Regions from separate parts of the Homo sapiens genome. Here region 2 is linked to region 1. Evidence: fine-mapped expression QTL. A gene starts in region 1. The other region holds a variant in brackets. All regions are shown on one strand. Distances are between the middles of the regions. Region 1 holds the start of ELOF1 (elongation factor 1). Region 2 holds the start of ZNF653 (zinc finger protein 653).

What was found. PIP is the estimated chance that this variant, and not a neighbour inherited with it, causes the effect.
Region 2: its variant is fine-mapped to the expression of ELOF1 in esophagus mucosa (GTEx, PIP above 0.99).

What each region holds. Positions count from the first base shown.
Region 1 is chr19:11,554,270-11,564,044 of GRCh38, forward strand. ELOF1 (elongation factor 1) reads right to left here and starts at 4,961. Exons shown (of 4, transcript NM_032377.4): 1 at 4,922-4,961; 2 at 1-96. The coding sequence starts at 78. RefSeq lists enhancers at 157-356, 6,285-6,579.
Region 2 is chr19:11,497,257-11,507,031 of GRCh38, forward strand. ZNF653 (zinc finger protein 653) reads right to left here and starts at 8,583. Exons shown (of 9, transcript NM_138783.4): 1 at 8,232-8,583; 2 at 1,040-1,083. The coding sequence starts at 8,530. ECSIT (ECSIT signaling integrator) reads right to left here. Exons shown (of 8, transcript NM_016581.5): 8 at 8,673-9,172. The coding sequence ends at 8,928. RefSeq lists an enhancer at 7,679-7,748 and silencers at 7,899-8,568, 8,729-8,778. The variant A/G (reference allele first, on the strand shown) is at 4,395.

The DNA.
Region 1 (9,775 bases):
GCAGGTGAACTGGGTCTCGAGGGTGCCTGTCATCTTCTTCTTGGGAGGCGGCTTTCGTTTTGACTTTCTGCGCCCCATGTCTGCAGGTGGATGAGCCTGTGGGGAGTGGCAGATGTCAGTGGTTTGAGGAAACCACGCAGCGCCCCAGCTCAATGCTCTAGAAAGCAGGCCGGAAAGAGGGTCTGGGACTTGCACCGTGGTCCCGGGGCCTCTGCCCTTGAGGGACGAGGCCCTCAGTCCTGATGCAGGAGGACAATTCCCTGTCCCACTCTGGATGGAAGGGGTGAGACGAGGCTCTAACCCCATCTCTCTCACTTACTGCGTGACCTGGGCAGGTTATTTAAGCTCTTTGTGCCACAGTTTCCTCGTCTATAAAACAGAGACAAGGCCAGGCATGGTGGCTCACACCTGTGATCCCAGCCAGCACTTTGGGAAGCTAAGGTGAGAGGATTACTTGATGCCAGGACCTGGATACCAGCCTGGGCAACATAGTGAGGCCTCATCTCTAAAAAAAAAAAATTAAAAATTAGCCAGGCATGGTGGTGCAGGCCTGTAGTCCCAGCTACTTGGGAGGCTGAGATGGGAGGATCGCTTGAGCCCAGGAGTTTCAGGTTTCAGTGATGATCCAGAGTTATGATCCAGGCACTGCACTCCAGCCTAGGCAACAGGATGAAACCCTGCATAAAAAAAAAAAAAGAAAAAAAAAAGGCCAGGTGTGGTGGCTCACACTTGTAATCCCAGGACTTTGGGAGGCTGAGGCGGGCGGATCACGAGGTCAGGAGTTCGAGACCAGCCTGACCAACACGGTGAAACCCCATCTCTACTAAAAATACAAAAATTAGCTGGCCATAGTGGCAGGCACCCGTAACCCCAGCTACTCAGGAGGCTGAGGCAGGAGACTCACCTGAACCCAAGAGGCGGAGACTGCAGTGAGCCGAGATCGCACCATTGCACTCCAGCCTGGGCAACAGAGCAAGACTCCGTCTCAAAAAAAAAAAAAAAAAAAAAGTCGAAATAAGGTTGCTATCTCAGAGGAGACTTGTGGGGCTGACACCAGGAATGGTAAGTTAAGTACTTAGCACAGAGCTGGCCCATCATCGCTGGCGCCAATACAAGGAAGCCACTGTTCCTGGGGAGGGTGGCACAAGAGACTCCAAGACAAGCCAGCTGTTCAGGGCCGGGTGGAGCCTAAGAGCCTAGGAACTGGTGATTTTATTCTGGCTGCTCCTCTTGGCAAAGGACATGTAAGTACCATCCAGGAGGAGTGACACTCAGGTTATCTGATGGCCTCGATCCAGATGACAGACTGCAGGGCAGAGAAGTGGGGACAGGCACTTCTGAGTAGAGGAACACTGTGTGAAGGCTCAGGGCAGCTGTCCGTCCCCTGGCAGGTGAGGGAGAGAGGAGGGACAGGTGGGAGGGTTCTGGGTGTTTGGATGGATCCTGGGAGCTACAAGGAGTGAAAGGACAAAGTCACCCTGTGCTTTTGAGGAACTGCGGTGTGAGCCATAATCTGGATGAAGACAAAGTCACAGCCAGGACAGGGCTGTTGGGGTAGAGATGGCAGAGGGTGAGAGAGACAGAGGAGACATGGCGGCAGAGTGAGTGAGTGTGACGAGAGAAGGAAAGTCCAGGATGACTCCCAAGGTTGTGGCGGGGACATAGTGGCTAGAGGGACAAGGTGGCATCATTCTCTGATGTCTAACACATAGGAAGGACAGGGTTTTGGAGAAAATGATGGGGTTGGGTGGCAGAGGGATATCTAGGAACAGATGTCCAGGAGGCAGGTGGGTGGGGAAACGGCAGCAGTTACCACTGAGCCCAACTCCCCTGCGAGGCACGGTGCTCAGGGCACTGTGTTTGCCATCCCTGAGCCTCCTATGGCGCCTCCTCCAACACACACACACACGACTGCTGGTTCTAGCATCGTTCCACTGTGACGGGGAGGTCAGCAGCCTGCCAGTGTCTTCCAGAATAAACAGTGGAGTTTCATTCATTATCTGCTGATCACTTCCTATGTAATACCCCCAACTCTTTCTTTTTTTTTTGAGATGGAGTCTTGCTCTGCCGCCCAGGCTGGAGTGCAGTGGCATGATCTCGACCCACTGCAACCTCCACCTCCCGGCTTCAAATGATTCTCCTGCCTCAGCCTCCCGAGTAGCTGGGAGTACAGGCATGCACTACCACGCGTGGCTAATTTTTTGTATTTTTAGTAGAGATGGGGTTTCACCGTGTTAGCCAGGATGGTCTCGATCTCCTGACCTCGTGATCCGCCTGTCTCGGCCTCCCAAAGTGCTGGGATTACAGGCGTGAGCCACCACGCCCAGCCAACACCCCCAACTCTTAACTGTGATGCTTCCAGTTCACTGAGTAAATAGAAGCAATCCAAAGACAGCTCCTAGGACCAACTCATTCAGCCATTCACCCACCCTCTTTATTTATCTAAGAGATGAGGTCTTGCTCTGTTGCCCAGGCTGGAGTGCAGTGGCATGATCACAGCTTGCTAAAGCCTCAATCCTCTGGCCTCAGCCTGCTCAGTAGCTGGGACAACAGGTGTGCACCACCATGCCCAGCTTCGGCATGCCTCCTTTACTATGGAAGTAAGTTCCTGCAAAAACAATTTGTTCATTCTGCCCTGGCTCCCATCCCCTTTTCTTTGAGCAACATCAAATTTTCCAGCTCCACTGGATCACTCTCACACACTTGTTATTACCTCTCTCCTCATTTAAAAAGGGGGAAAAAAAAACTCTTCATCCTCTTCCAGCTATGATCCTTTTCTCTGCAGGCTGTTTTAGTGTACAGCCATCTGCATTCCCACCCATCTCTCTGCACCCCTTGCCTCCAAACTTAGGTTACTGGTGGCTCCATACTGCAAATCCCAATGGCAGTCCTCCCATTCCAGAGGTCCTTCCTCCCCTGAGAGCACATGTGGCTCTCAGGATGCCATGTGCTCCCTGTCCTCTGCCTCACTGGTGGCTCCTGCTAGTCTCCTATGCTCCTGCCTCTCTGCCAACTTGCTCCAATGAAGAGAGCACGTGAGTTTGGGCCAGGCGCTGTGGCTCACGTTTATAATCCCAGCACTTTGGGAGGCCAAGGTGGGCAGATCACTTGAGGTTAGGAGTTGGAGACCAGCCTGGCCAACATGGTGAAACCCCATTTCTACTAAAAATACAAAAATTAGCTGGGCGTGGTGGCACATGCCTGTAATCCCAGCTAATAGAGAGGCTGAGGCAGGAGAATCGCTTGAACCTGGGAGTCGGAGGTTTCAGTGAGCTGAGATTGTGCCACCGCACTCCAGCCTGGGCAACAGAGCAAAACTTCATCTAAAAAAAAAAAAAAAAAAGGCTGAGTGCAGTGGTTCACGCCTGTAATCCCAGCACTTTGGGAGGCCGAGGTGGGCAGATCACGAGGTCAGGAGTTCGAGACCAGCCTGACCAACATGGTGAAACCCCATCTCTACTAAAAATACAAAAATTAGCCAGGCATGGTGGTGCACGCCTGTAATCCCAGCTACTCGGGAGGCTGAGGCAGGAGAATCACTTGAACCTGGGAGGCGGAGGTTGCAGTGAGCCGAGGCACTCCAGCCTGGGCAACAGAGCAAAAAGCCCATGAGTTTAATTGTTGGATCCTCTCCTTTCTGGCTATACTCACCACATGAAGATTTCACCCAGTCTTAGGGCTTCATGCCTACTCTACACTGAGGCCACCTGCTTCTCCAGCCTTGAGTCTGAACTGCAGACTCTGATCTATCTGCCTCAGCCACACCTCCACCTGATGTCTAACTTCCACCTAAGATTAAACATATCATGTCCAAAACCAAGCCCCTGACATTGCAACCTGCTCTTCCAGTCTTCCTCATCTCAGCTAACAGCAATTCCATCTTTCCGGATAATCAAATCAGAAACCTTGGATTCATCCTCAATGTCTTTTTCCCTCACACATTCCTTATGCGATCCTCCCCCTGCCCCTCTACCTCTGAAATATAAATTAGCCGCGGCACCACGCCCAGCTAATTTTTGTATTTTTTGTAGAGACAGGGACCCACCATGTTGCCCAGCCTGGTCTGGAACTCCTGGGCTCAAGAGATACTCCCGCCTCGGCCTCCCAAAGTGCTGGCGTTACAAGCATGAGCCACCGTGCCCAGCAATAACCATTACTGAATAAATCACTCAATCAGTTTGCTTGTAACTCTATCACTTTGGGACGTCACGCCCGTAATCTCATCACTTTGGGAGGCCCAGGTGGGAAGATCGCTTGAAGCCAGGAGTTCCAGACCAGCCTGGGAAACAGAGTGAGACCCTTCATCTCTACAAAATTACAAAAATTAGCCTTGAGTCTGTAGTCCCAGCTACTCGGCAAGCTGAAGTGGGAAGCTTGCGCCCAGGAGGTCGAGGCTGCAATGAGCTATGATCGCGCCACTGCACTCCAGCCTCGGCGACACAGCAAGACTCACTCTCAAAAAAAAAAAAAAAAGTCCAAACAAAATCTACGGATGAGCCCCAGAAGCTCATTTTGCCCAGGGACTACAGTCTCCCCATCCCATGAATGGGGTCTGGCTTGCACAAGGAATGCAGAGGCCTCAGCCTGTCCTGTGACAACGTTAAGTCCAAGAGCGCCAAAAGGGGATGGCAGAGGAGTCATCCCCCGAATCTGCTGGTACCCAAGAGGTGGGGGGTTGGCTGTTCCTCCAGACTCACTAAAGCTTCGGCATCGCCTCCCGACGGCCGCCGGGAGGAGCCAGGCGTCCCGGTAGTCGCGCTTGGAAGGATGGGGTCGGGGGGAGTCAGTCTCCCCGACCGGCTTTCCCCCAAGCTCGAGGTCCCAGGAGCCTCCTCCAGGACCCCGTAAACGCACGGAGTAGAGGAACTTCCAGTCCTGCCCACCCCCAACGCCCACTCGCACGAGCCGCACCAGCACTCACCTTCTCCAGCTGCGAAAGCTCCGTTCACCCGGGAGATAGTGACTTCCGACTCCTGCCGGAAGCGGAAACCCCTCTCCTACTTTCAGGTCCCGGCCACCCCCATCCCGGACAGCCCAGCAAATAGGCCCTGCCTCCTTCGCCGCTCCTCTGAGCGCACGCGTACTCAAATAGCAGCGCTCCGACGGAGACGCAGTGCGCCTGCGCAAGAGCCGGTGCGTATTTGCCTGTACCTACGCGCGATGCCAGTACTTCTGGTCAGTTTCCAGGAGCGGCAAGTGAGGAATATGAAATAACCTTATGGCTGAATCAGGGTGAAGGGGAAGCTTGTAAGCATGGAAGACGCTCTACTCAAACTAAAAAGTTCAAGTTCTGATCCAGCAGATGAAGAGGGAGGCCTGAGAGGCTGCTGTTCTAACTCGCTCCCAGGTGACTTCCATGCTGCTGATCCGCAGACCACATTTTGAGTGCCCAGATTGTAGTAGATGAGGTTGAGTGGACAGGCTGGGGCCAGATTCCATGGAGCCTCGTGGGCCGTGTTAAGGATTTTTATTTTTTATTTTTGTTTTATTTTATTTTATTTTTTTGAGACGGAGTCTCACTTTGTCGCCCAGGCTGGAGTGCAGTGGCTCGATTTCGGCCCACTGCAACCTCCGCCTCCCAGGTTCAAGTGATTCTCCTACCTCAGCCTCCCGAGTAGCTGGGATTACAGGCGCCGGTCACCGCGCCCGGCTAATTTTTGTAGTTTTTTTTTTTTTTTTTTTTTTGAGTAGGGATGGGGTCTCACCATCTTGGCCAGGCTGGTCTTGAACTCCTGACCTCGTGATCCACCCGCCTCGGCCTCCCAAAGTGCTGGGATTACAGGCGCGATCCACCCGCCTCGGTCTCCCAAAGTGCTGGGATTACAGGCGTGAGCCACCGCGCCCGGCCAAGGACTTTTATTGGTTTTTATTTTTGGTTTTGTTTTTTTCTGAGACAGGGTTTCGCTCCGTCGCCCAGGCTGGAGTGCAGTGACGCCATATGGGCTCACTGCAACCTTAGCCTCCCGGGTTCAAGCGATCCTCCTGCCTCAGCCTCTTAAGTAGCTGTGATTACAGGTGCGCACTACCATGCCTGGCTAATTTTTGTATTTTTAGTAGAGATGGGGTTTCACCATGTTGGTCAGGCTGGTCTCGAACTCCTGACCTCAAGTGATCCATCCACCTCGGCCTCTCAAATTGTTGGGATTACAGGCATGAGCCACCACACCTGGCCTGAAAAAGATATTTCAAGATGGAGAGAGAGAGGGGTTAGCTGTGTCACGTGTCCCTGAGTTGAAGAAGATGAGGAAAGAGAATTGACAGTTGAGTTTGGCAAGGGTCTGGTCCCTGCGGACCTTGATAAGAGCTGTTGCATTAGAGTGTTCAGGAAGATAATTTGTAATGAAATGTATTTCGAATACAGATGCTCTTTGATTTACGATGGGGTTACATCCCGATAAACCTATCATAATCAAGTCAGGGGCTGTCTGTAGAGGGATCTCTAGGATATCCCCTAGGGGGCAGTGTTACCCTGGTAACCGTCAAGTGTAACCAGTAGAACTGCCCTCTTGTGAGACCCTTTTTCAGTGCTGGAGCAAACTAGAATACACACAGGATGGAATCATACTATACAGTTACCGTGCAACTTGCTATTTCCACTTAACCATCTATACACGTATACCTAACTTTTGTTTTTAGTAGCTACATGATTCATAGTGCAACTCTGCCATAGTATAATCAACGGTTATCCTACTGATGGACAATTCCTGGACTTTCCTGAGTTTTGCCACTGTGATGATGCAGTAAATGTCCCTGAATCAGTATCCTTAAGACTGGATCTTTAGTGAAGCATAGTTTTCAAAAAATGACATTTGTGAGTACAGTGTCTCACCCCAGTAACCCCAGCACTTTGGGAGGCCGAGGTGGGAGGACTGCTTGAGCCCAGGAGTTTGAGGCTAGCATGGGCAACATAGTGAAATCCTGTCTCTAAAAATAAAATAAAATAAAATAAAAAACAATAAATGATGGCCGGGTATGGTGGCTCACACCTGTAATCCCAGCACTTTTTTGTTTTTGCTTTTTTTTTTTTTTTTTTGAGACAGAGTCTTGCTCTGTGGCCCAGGCTGGAGTGCAGTGGCGTGATCTCGGCTCACTATAACCTCCACCTCCTGGATTCAAGCAATTCTCCTGCCTCAGCCTCCTGAGTACCTAGGATTACAGGTGTGCGCCAACATGCCTGGCTAATTTTTGTATTTTTAGTAAAGATGGGGTTTCACCATGTTGGCCAGGCTGGTCTTGAACTCCTGACCTCGTGATCTGCCTGCCTTGGCCTCCCAAAGTGCTGGGATTACAGGCGTGAGCCACGGCGCCTGGCCCATCCCAGCACTTTGGGAGGCCAAGACGGGTGGATAACCTGAGGTCAGGAGTTCAAGACTAGCCTGACCAACATGGTAAAACCTTGTCTCTACTAAAAATACAAAAATTAGCTGGGCATGGTGGCAGGCACCTGTAATCCCAGCTACTCAGGAGGCTGAGGCAGGAGAATCACTTGAACCCCGGGAGGCAGAGGTTGCAGTGAGCCGAGATCGCGCCACTGCACTCCAGCCTGGGCAACAAGAGTGAAACTCCATCTCAAAAAAAAAAAAAAAACAAAGACATTGAGTCACAGGATGTATATATCTTTCATTTTGTTCATGATTGCCACATTAGTTTTCTCTTTTTCTCTCCTTTCATCCCTTCCCTCTCTTACTTCCCTCCTTCCCAGCTTTGTTGGATGTAATTGACTGAACATGAACTGCTCATATTTAAACCATGCCTGGCCGAAATTGCATGTTTTGACATACAGGTATATCATTAAAACATGACCATAATCAAGACAATTATTTCCATCACCCTAAGAAATTTCCTCTTACCAGTAGCCGAGTGTGATGGCTCATGCCTGTAATCCTAGCACCTTGGGAGGCCGAGGTGTGCGAATCACGTGAAGACAGGAGTTTGAGACCAGCCTGGGCAACACGGTGAGACCCCTTGTAGTCTCCACTACAAATACAAAAATTAGCCAGACATAGTGGCACACGCCTGAAGTCCCAGCTACTAGCGAGGCTGAGGCTGGAGAATCACTTGAACCCGGGAGGCGGAGGCTGCAGTGAGCCAAGATTGTGCCACTGCACTCCAGCCTGGGTGACAGATCAAGACTCAGTCTTAAAAAAAAAAAAATAAGAAAAAAAAGAAATTTTTCTCTTGCCCTTTTGTGCTCTGTCCCCTACTCCAGCCCCTGGCCCTAACTGATTTGTTTTTGGTTCCTGTAACTTTGTCTTTTTCAGAAAGTCATATAAGCTGAATCATACAACGTGTAGCCTTTTGAGCTGGGCTTCTTTCCCCAGCATAAGATGTTTGAAACTCACTCATGTTCCCAGCATTTTGGGAGGCCAAGGCGGGTGGATTGCTTGAGGTCAGAAGTTCAAGACCAGCCTGGCCAACATGGTGAAACCCCATTTCTACTAAAAATACAAAAATTAGCTGGATGTGTTGGTGTGCGCCTGTAATCCCAGCTACTTGGGAGGCCAAGCCAGGAGAATCACTTGAAACCAGGAGGCGGAGGTTGCAGTGAGCCGAGATCACGCTATTGCACTCCAGCCTGGGCAACAGAGCCAGACTCTGTCTCAAAAAAAAAAAAAAAGAAAAAAAGGAACTCACTCGTGTTGTTGGATATGTCAGCAGTTTGTTTCTTTTTTGTTTTCTTTTGAGATGGGGTCTCACTCTGTCACCCAGACTGGAGTGCAGTGGCACCATCATGGTTCACTGTAGCCTCAACTTCCCAGGCTCCAGCAGTCCTCCCACCTCAGCTTCCCGAGTAGCGGGGATTACACCTGTGCACCACCACGCCCAGTTAATTTTTGTGTTTTTTGTAAAGACAAGGTTTTGCCATGTTGCCCAGGCTGGTCTCGAACTCCTGGACTCAAGCAATCCACCTGCCTTGGCCTTTCAAAGTGCTTGGATTATAGGCATGATTATTATTCAGTTGTATTCTGTTATATGAATGTCCCACACTTTGTTTATCTTTTCACCTGTTAGTGACCTGTTTTTTGCATTGTTGCCGGTTGTTGAACAATTATTAGAGCTGTTATGAACCATTTCTTTCATTTTGAGGGTGGCAGATGACACCACTCCAAAATATGCCACTTTGGCATATGGATTGTTTCAGCTAAGTGCACTTGAAAAACAGTAGGTGCAGGAAAAGCACTCTGACCTCCCTCTTTTCTCTGGAAAACGAGATAAACCCCCATATGGAAGATGCCCTCCCCATCCCAGGAAGAAAGTAAAATTCTTTTTAGACAGGGTCTCATCCTGTTGCCCAGGCTGGAGCGAAGTGGTGTGATATCCACTTCCTGCAACCTCACTGCAACCTCCACCTCCTAGTCTTAAGCGATCCTCTCGCCTTGTCCCCAAAATAGCTGGGATCACAGGCGCCCACCACCATGCCCAGCTAATTTTTTTGTATTTTTGGTAGACACAGGGTTTCACTAAGTTGCCTAGGCTGGTGTCCAGCTCCTGAGCTCAAGTGATCCACCCGCTTCTGCCTCCCAAAGTGCTGGGATTACAGGCCTGAGCCACCGCGCCCAGCCCTAGAGCGTACAATTCTTATCACCAGAAGACAGGGAGTCAAAGCTGAGGAAAAAATGTACAAACAAACCTTGTTAAATGAACCCTTATTTTTCTAGTTATTTTTCCACCATTAACTGCTCTAGCCCAAACCCCTTTGTCTTGTCACATTTTCATAATTTACTACCCTTTTAAAACTTTATTTATAATATTTATTTATAATTTTAAAATTTAT
Region 2 (9,775 bases), 57 kb before region 1:
ACACTGCTGTTTTGCTCCTCCTGTACCCCCAGTGCCCCCAAAGGGCCTGGTTCATAGCAGGTGCTCCAGGAACATTTGCTGGATGAGAGAACGCTGCATAGCGGGCGGGCATGGTGGAGCCGGACCGCCTGGGTTTGAATCCTGGCTCTGCCCCTTCCAAGCTGGGTAGCTCCAGGCAAGTGACTTGGCTTCTCTGAGCCCCAGGTGCCTCCTCTAGGCTGGGGAGAATAAGGGATTCCCATCCCGGAGGGCTGCCAGGCAGGAGGAAGGGAGTGAAGACATCGCCAGGACACAGAACAAGGCTGGGCACACAGTGAGTGCTGGGAAATGGTATCTGACTCTTGTGATGGTCCTGGTCCCTCAGCCAAGTGCGAGGACAGCATGTCCCCCACTCCTACCCTGTGGGCCGGGAGATGAAGAGGGGCCCAGAAGAGGTGTTTGGGTCTAGGGAATGTGCTCACAGTCTCCAATCATGAGGGCAACAGAGTCGTCACCCACAGCCGCCTCTCCGGCCCAGCCCTTTCCCTCCTCAATGCGCTCCTCATCCCTTGAGGATTCAGGATCAAGGTCATAGCTCACCCCTGCCTCTGGAGAAACCTAAGAAGGGAGGGGCTCACTGCCACCAGCTGGCCTTCACCCTGCTGGACATGGCCTGGGACCCCCAGCTCCAGGGCTCAGAGCTGTGCAGACCCTGACAGTTCAAGCTCTCACCAACTGGTGGCCAGCAGGACAGGAGGAGCAAGCTCCAGACCTCCCCTCTAACCACCAGTGCTTGGCTCCCCCTGCCCTTAGGGCTCTGCAAAAGCTGTTCCCTCTGCTCGGCTCTCCCCTGGCTGACTCCCATGCCGGGAGCAAGAGAATGAGGGAGCCAAGGACACTGCGCCTGAGACACAAGACACGCAGACCCGGGTTTGAGGTCGGGCTCTGCTGGTTCCAACTGTGCTGCCTAGGGCAGCGACCTGGCCTCTCTGGGCCTCCATCTCCATATTCCCACCGCTCCCAACTCTCCCCACCTCCCCCAGGCTGAGCCTCCACTTACTTTTCTTCCGCTTTGGCTTTTTGGGGACCTGCTCCCAAGGCTTCCTGCAACAGAAAGAGGCAGAGAGGGTGAACGGGGGACCAGCGCTGGGCCTGTCTGACCCATGAGTAACAACAGTGGCTAGAGCCACTGCTCATTGTACACTGAAACTAAATCTGAACTTTTTGAGATGGAGTCTCACTGTGTTGCCCAGGCTAGAGTGCAGTGGTGAGATCTTGACTCATTGCAGCCTTTGCCTCCCAGGTTCCAGCGATTCTCCTGCCTCAGCCTCTCAAGTAGCTGGGATTACAGGTGCACGCCACCACACCTGGCTAATTTTTGTATGTTTAGTAGAGACGGAGTTTCACCATGTTGGCCAGGCTGGTCTCGAACTCCTGACCTCAGGTGATCCGCCCACCTCAGCCTCCCAAAGTGCTGGTATTACAGGCATGAGCCGCCACGCCTGCCCTGAACTTTTTTTTCTTTTTGAGACAATGTCTGTCTCTGTTGCCTAGGCTGGAGTGCAGTGGTGCGATCTCGGTTCACTGCAACCTCCGCCTCCCAGGTTCAAGTGATTCTCCTGCCTCAGACTCCTGAATAGCTGGGATTACAGACTAATTTTGTATTTTTAGTAGAGACGGGGTTTCACCATGTTGGCCATCCTGGTCTCAAGCTTCTGACCTCAGGTGATCCGCCCACCTCGGCCTCCCAAAGTGTTGGGATTACAGGCGTGAGCCACCGTGCCCAGCCTAGAATCTGAACTTCTATGTACCTTTCCCCAACTCCAGAACTGTGTCACCAGGCCCCTCCCTTGGACTCTCTCCCCAATTGCCATCAGCCCTGGGAGGGGGCTCTAGCATCATCCACCTCAAGGAGCAGGAAAAACAGGCTTGGAGGGGTGAGGCCATCTGCCCTGGGTCCCACAGTCAGGGAGCAGAGAAGTAACAAAGTGGGTATGAAAAGTTTGTGTGGAAGCAGAATTCCAAGATGGCCCCCACAGTTCTGCTGGGACACATGCCCTGTGTGATCCTCTTCCCCTGAGCGGGGCAGGCCTGTGAGTAGGACTGGATGTCAAGCCTTGGTTAGGTGACTGTGAGTTAATCAAACGGGAACATATCTTGTAGGGCACAGTGGCTCAAGCCTGTAGTCCCAGCTACTTGAGAGGCTGAGAGTGGTCTTGGCCCACAGCCAGCAAGACAGTGGGTACTGTCTGGGTGTGGTGTCTCACACCTGTAATTCTAGCACTTTGGGAGGCTGAGGCAGGAGGACTGCTTGAAGCCAGGGGTTCAAGACCAGCCTGGGCAACATAGCAAGATCCCACCTCTATTTATACAATTAAAAAAAAAAAAAAAAAAGGCCAGGCTCCGTGGCTCATTCCTGTAATCTCAGCACGTTAGGAGGTTAAGACGGGTGCATCGCTTGAGGCCAGAAGTTGGAGACCAGCCTGGGAAACACAGTGAAACCCCATCTCCACAAAAAATACAGAAATTACCCAGGCGGGGTGGCATGCACCTGTAGTCCCAGCTACTCAGGAGGTTAAGGTGGGAGGATCACCTGAGCCTGGGGAGGTCAAGGCTGCAGTGAGCTATGATCACACCACTGCACTCCAACCTGGGCAACAGAGTAAAACCGTGTCTCAAAAACAAAGAAACAAACAAAAACAAACAAAAAACGATCTTCGTCATGGTACAGCCCTGTCACTTAATCATCAATAAGCAAATGGTACAATGATCGTTATGATTATCAGTATCATCGTGGAGCCTGGGCCCCCTGGCCTCCCTGCTGTGGCCCAGACCTGCTCTTGCCACAAACATCCTGACAGCCAGTCTAGTGTCTCTTATCAGCAAAACTGTCCACCCCGTCTGACTCCTGCCCAGCCCTGTAACAATTCTCAGTCCCACACCCGTCTGGTTCCCAGGACTGCACCTTGGGGATCTTCCATCTTTCCTGCCCCAGGCTCTGCCCCTGCCTCTGGCTCTGCTACTCCAGGTCCCATTCCATGTGACTCTATCCCTTCCCATGGCTCCACCCTCCCCTGCAAAGCACCACACTGGCTGTAGAGACCTTCACCCAACCCAAGACCCAAGTCTGGCTCTGTCACCCAGGTTGGAGTGGAGTAGCACTATCTCAGTTCACTGCAACCTCTGCCTCCTGGGTTCAAGCGATTCTTCTGCCTCAGCCTCCTGAGTAGCTGGGATTATAGATGCCTGCCATCAGCCCAGCTAATTTTTCTATTTTTAGTAGAGACAGGATTTCGCTATGTTGGCCAGACTGGTCTCGAACTCCTGACCTCAAGTGATCTGCCTGCCTCAGCCTCCCAAAGTGCTGGGATTACAAGTGTAAGCCACCATGCCCTGCCCCAAACCCAAGTCCTGATGTCCACAGCCACCTCCATCCACTCACCGCTGGAGGCTGGGAGTGTCACATTGCAGTGGGGACAGTCTTGGGTATCAGCCAGACCCAAGTTCAAGACTCAGCTCTGCTCTCAACTGCCTGTGTGACCTCAAGCAGGTCTTGTCCCCTCTGAGCCTCAGTCTCCGTCTGTGAAGTGGAAATAGTAGTAGTGCTTCTGACACAGGGTCACCATGGGGACCAAACAAGGTCATATGTAACCTGGTGAGCGCCACTTTCCAACCCCCACACAGGGCTTTCTCCCTCAAACTGCCTTCCCTCTCCTGTCCACTTCTCCAACTTCTGCCACTTCTCTGTGACTCCCAGCAGAGGCCACTGGCATCAAGGACCACAGCTCCGGGGCTACTCAGGCCCTGGCTTGGCTGTTTCCCGCCATTTCCTTTCAGTCTTCAGTCATTCCCACCAGCATCTAAATATGCCATGATTTCTCCCATCTTGGGTTAAAATCATTTTGATACCCACCTTCCCCACCAGCCCCTTCCCCATATCTTTTTTTTTTTTTTTCTTTTTGAGACAGGCTCTCGTGGTGTTGCCCCAGCTGGAGTGCAGTGGCGCCATCACAGCTCACTGAAGCTTCGACCTCCAGGGCTCAACCGATCCTCTTGCCTCAGCCTCCTGAGTAGCTGGGACCACAGGCATGCACCACCACACCCGGCTAACTTTTGTACTTTTTGTAGAGATCGAGTTTCGCCATGTTGCCCAAGCTGGTCTCAAACTCCTGGGCTCAAGAGATCCTTCTGCTTCAGCCTCCCAAAGTGCTGGGATTACAGGTGTGAGCCACTAGCACCCAGCCTCCTTCTTCATTTCCCCGTTTTGTCACAGTTGTCTACACTCGCTGTCTCCATGTCCTCTCCTCCATCTCACTGGAACTCCTCCAGTCAGAGCTTTGCTCCATCACGTCACACACTCTCCCATCACAGTCACCAGTGACGGCTTCACTCGGCCCAACAGCACTGGACATGGC[A/G]GACACTTCCTTTGGCCTCCTGGGTGCTGCCACTGCCCAGTGCTCCACTGGCACCGGGCTGCTGCTTCTCCCTCACCTCCCTTACCAAGGAGAGCAACCGCCACACTCAGGCCTGTGTTTTCTGTCTAAAAGTATCCCTTTAGTAACTTTTTTTTTTCTTTTGAGATAGAGCCTCGCTCTGTTGCCCAGGCTGGAGTGCGGTGGCACGATCTTGGCTCACTGCAAACTCTGCCTCCTGGGTTCAAGTGATTCTCCTGCCTCAGCCTCCTGCGTAGCTGGGACTATAGGCGTGTGCCACCACGCCCAGCTAATTTTTGTATTTTTAGTAGAGACGGGGTTTCAATATGCTGGCCAGGCTGGTCTCGAACTCCTTACTTCGTGATTTGCTCACCTTGGCCTCCCAAAGTGCTGGGATTATAGGCGTGAGCCATCGCGCCTGGCCTATTTTTATTTTACTTTTTGAGACAGTCTTGCTCTATTGCCCAGGCTGGAGTACAGTGGCGCGATCTCGGCTCACTGCAACCTCCACCTCCCGGGTTCCAGTGATTCTCCTGCCTCAGCCTCCCAAGCAGCTGCGACTACAGGCGTGCGCCACCATGCCCGGCTAATTTTTGCATTTTTAGTAGAGACAGGGTTTTGGCCTATTGGTCAGGCTGGTCTCAAATTCCTGACCTCAAGAGATCCACCTGCCTTGGCCTCCCAAAGTGCTGGGATTACAGGCGTGAGCTACCATGCCTGGTCTTCCTTTTTTTTATTTTAATTGTTGACAAGAGTCATGAACCTCCTTGGACTCATCATCAGCTTTAACAATTGTTAACTCTTGGCCAACCTTGTATCACAATGTGTACCCCATCCATTCTTCAAGCCACACACATCCTAGAGACAGTTTCTTCTAAAATACAAACCAGGCTGTGTGTGACTTGTAGTCCCAGCTACTCTGGAGGCTGAGGTGGGAGGATCTCTTGAGTCCAGGAGTTCAAGACCAGCCTGGGCAATATAGCAAGACTGCATCTCAAAAATAAATAAACAAATAAATAAGGAAATAAAAGGCCAGGCCCAGGCCCGGGTATGGTTTCATCTTTACATTTAAATCTGCAACCCCGCCGGGCGCAGTGGCTCACACCTGTAATCCCAGCACTTTGGGAGGCCGAGGCAGGCAGACCTCTTGAGGTCAGGAGTTCGAGACCAGCCTAGCCAACATGGCGAAACCCCGTCTCTACTAAAAATACAAAAATTAGCCGGGCATGGGGGTGCACGCCTGTAATCCCAGCTACTCGGGAGGCTGAGGCAGGAGAATCGCTTGAACGCGGGAGGCAGAGGTTGCAGTGAGCTGAGGCTGCGCCAATGTACTCCAGCCTGGGTAACAGAGCAAGACTCCATCTCAAAAAAAAAAAAGGTGGGGGGGGCATCAGGGGAAATAAAGGCAGACCATACCACTTCTTTCTCTGTACAAAATCTTGCACTTAAGAAAAGGCTCCCACCTCACTGGGAGGAAAAACTGGAGTCCTCTCCATGGCTCTGGATGACCTTCCCTGTCACCAATCTGTCCTTGTCTTCCCTTCTCCCCCTCACTCATTGCAGTCCAGCCACACAAGCCTCTTCAGTGTTCCTGGCACACAATAGGCAGGGTCCTGCCTCAGGACCTTTGCCTTTGCTATTCCCTCTGCCTCAACTCTTCCCCAGAGATCTGCATGGCTCCTCCTAGGTTCCTTCATGTCTTTACTGAAATGCTATCTTCTGAATGTGACCACCTTAACTCCCTATTTAAACTTCCAACTCACACTCTTCATTTCACTTTTGTTTTTTCCGTAGCCCCTATCTCTCATGGACGATACAATTTACTTATGTTTCTGGTCTGCAGTAAACAAGCCTTTTGCCAGGTATGGTGGCTCATGACTTTAATCCCAGCACTTCGGGAGGCTGAGGACGGAGGATCCCTTGAGCCGAGGAGTTCGTGACCAGCCTGGGCAACATGGCGAGACCCCCATCTCCATGAAAAATTAAAAAATTAGCCAGGTGAGGTGGCTCCTCTGTAGTCCCAGCTACTTGGGAGACTGAGGCAGGAGGATCCCTTGAGCCTGGGAGGTTGAGGCTGCTGTGAGCTATGAACATGCCACTGTACTCTGGCCTGGGTGACAAAGTGAGACCCTGTCTCAAGAACAAACAAACAGGGCTGGGCACAATGGCTTACACCTGTAATCCCAGCACTTTGAGAGGCTGAGGCCGGAGAATCACTTGAGCCTAGGAGTTTGAAATCAGCCTGGGCAACACAGGGAAACCTCTGTCTCTACAAAAAATACAAAAATTAGCCAGGTGGAGTGACGTGCACCTGTGGTCCCAACTACTCAGGAGGCGGAGGTAAGAGGATCACTTGAACCCACGAGGTTGAGGCTGCAGTAAGCCGTGATCATGCCACTGCATTCCACTCTGGGCGAGAGAGTGAGACCCTGTCTCAAAAAGAAAAACGAGGGCCGGGCGCGGTGGCTCACGCCTGTAATCCCAGCACTTTGGGAGGCCGAGGCGGGTGGATCACGAGGTCAGGAGATCGAGGCCATCCTGGCTAACAGAGTAAAACCCTGTCTCTACTAAAAATACAAAAAATTAGCCGGGCGTGGTGGCGGGCGGCTGCAGTCCCAGCTACTTGGGAGGCTGAGGCAGGAGAATGGCGTGAACCCGGGAGGCGGAGCTTGCAGTGAACGGAGATCGTGCCACTGCACTCCAGCCTGGGCGACAGAGCAAGACTCTGTCTCAAAAAAAAAGAAAAGAAAAGAAAAACGAACAAAAAAACCCCCCAGACCTTTGAACAAGCCATCCCCTCTGCCCACCAGAATGTCCGCTCCATGAGGCAGGTATCTTTGCGCTCCCAGCATTTCCAGTCCTGCTCTTGAGCATATAAGCCAGCCTGCTGTCCTGGGAAAGGGGTGGGTATAACTTAGCAGGATCTGTTTGATTCTTGACTCTCAGAATCTCCCCCCAGAGAAACATGAGAACATGTGTACCTGAAAACCAGGGCAGAACAAGGATTTCCTTGCGGCACTGCTTGTGATACGGAATAAACGTCATCCTCGTAAAAGTTAATACTTAGGGAACCCACTACCTGCCAGGCACTCTTCTAAGCTCTTTGCCTATTTTAACTCAATCATCACATCAACATATAAGGCAGGAAGGGAAAAACTCCATCCACACTGCTCCTTCTCAAGACTGAGAATTTACAAAGACAGGCCTCTCTGCCCTCCACCTGCCAAGCTAACTAGGGGTTTCCTCTTCATCCGAGTCTCCCTGGGCTGAGTTGCTTCACAGAAATAGGTTTAGGGGAGTGCAGTCCAGGTTGTGAAGGGTCCCCCGGATGTGTTGGATCTAGGGTTGTGGGAATGGGGCCATACGGAGTCCCAGATGGGGCACCAGAACTTCAAGAAGGGCAGGGCTGAGTGCCCCAGGGTGTCCAGAGTCCCAGGCCAGGTGGGGAACTAAGCGGGGGAGGATGAGACCGGTGAGGGGGCGGGGCTGCCCCCCCAGGGCCTGGTTAGTTACAAGGCCTGGAGGTGGGGCCAGTCCCAGGATTGGGCCGCCAGAGTTCTAGCGGGCGGGGCCAAGCGCTCAGAAGGCGGGTCGAGGGGCTGGGTGCACCCTAGGATTGGGCAGTCGGAACGATGGGAGGCGGGGCCACGAGCCAGGCGCGTCCCGGCCAGGCAGTACGAGACCCAGGCCGCCGGCCCGGCTCCTGGGCGGGGTCCGCAGGTGCCGGGGGCTGGCCCTAGAAGCGGAGGGGGCGGGGTAAAGCCCGGCGGGGTCTGGGGGCGTCTCCTCCCTCCCTCCCTCGGGGCCAGGCCCCCTCACCCGTGGCGGCCGCTCCGCTGGCCGCGCTCCAGAGAGATGAGGTAGGCGGCGAGCTTGGCGTCGCTCCAGCCGCTGCGGCGCCGCAGGTCCACCCAGGGCCCGTGCGCCTCGCCCAGGTACACGCGCCGCACGTCGTACTTCTTCCGGGACTCGAGCCGTCGCCGGGCCCGGTCCGACTCCGTGAGTCGCGGCCGGCCCCGCGCCTTTCGGCCCGCTGCGCCCTCCTCGGCTGCTGCCTCCCCGCCCGCGCCCGCCTCAGCCTCCGCCTCCGCCTCGGGCTCTAGCGCCCGCTCCGCCATCCCCCCCACCCTGGTTACCAGCCTCCCCCGTTGTTAGGAGCCAGACCGGAAGTGGCGCGCATCTTCGGCGCCGCCGAGAAATTTCTCACGGTCTCTCGCTGCCCCAGGGCGCCAAAAGGAGACCAAGAATGGAAACTGCGCATGCGCACAACCAACAGCGCTCCCGCCCCTTTTTATTTGAATTCGGAGAACCAGAGGCGCCTGCAGATTCTGGAGGGGTCTCGCCTGCCCATCGCTGGCAGCCCGAGATCCTGGGGAGGGGATGCCATACTGCTAGAGATGAGGGAAGAGAGCCCCAAGCAGGAAAACATTGATTTGCTGTACACTCAAAGGGCATCTCATGCCTTCAGTCCACCGCCTCCTCGGGCCACAGCCCGTGCCCTCGCGCCGGCTCAGACTAGCTCTGGCCCTGCTGCTGTCGCTGCAGGTTGTCGTCTTCTTCCTGGTGGTCCTCGGGCAGGGGCGGCTCCTCCAGCCCTGCAGAGGATGTCTGGAGCTCCCGGGTGGACCCGGCGAGGCGGAAGACCACGGGGATCTGGGCCAGGGTTGGGTTGGTCTCCTGCAGGCCCTGGATCCACTTAGCCATCGTCGCCTGGTCATGAGCACCCGCCATGCACATGGCGAAGACAGGGCCTTCCTCCACTGTTGGAAGACATGCACCCTTAAGGTTTGCACAGTGGGGGCTGCAGCGGCTAACCCATGCCTACACCTTTTTGAGGTATTTTACACTCCCTTCCACTTCCTTTTTTTTTTTTTTTTTTTTTTTGAGACGGAGTCTCGCTGTGTCACCCAGGCTGGAGTGCAGTGGCGAGATCTCGGCTCACTGCAACATCCGCCTCCCAGGTTCAAGTGATTCTCCTGCCTCGGCCTCCCGAGGAGCTGGGATTACAGGTGCACAGCACCACGCCGGGCTAATTTTTAAATTTTTAGTAGAGATGGGGTTTCACCATGTTGGCCAGGCTGGTCTCGAATTCCTGACCTCAAATGATCTACCCGCCTCAGCCTCCCAGAGTGCTGGGATTACAGGCGTGAGCCACTGTGCCCGGCTTCCTTCCACTTTCTTGTGCCTCCAAACCTTTGCACAAGCTAGCCCCGCTGCCTAGGCTGCCCACTCCACACTTCACCCGGGCGATGACTCCTGGTTTTTCTGTATTCTGCCAGGAAGGCCTCCTGACCCCCCACTCAAGGCATGCTCCTCTCCTAAGCTCCCCAAAGTGTAATTTGCCTGTTCCCTTGCTGACTCGA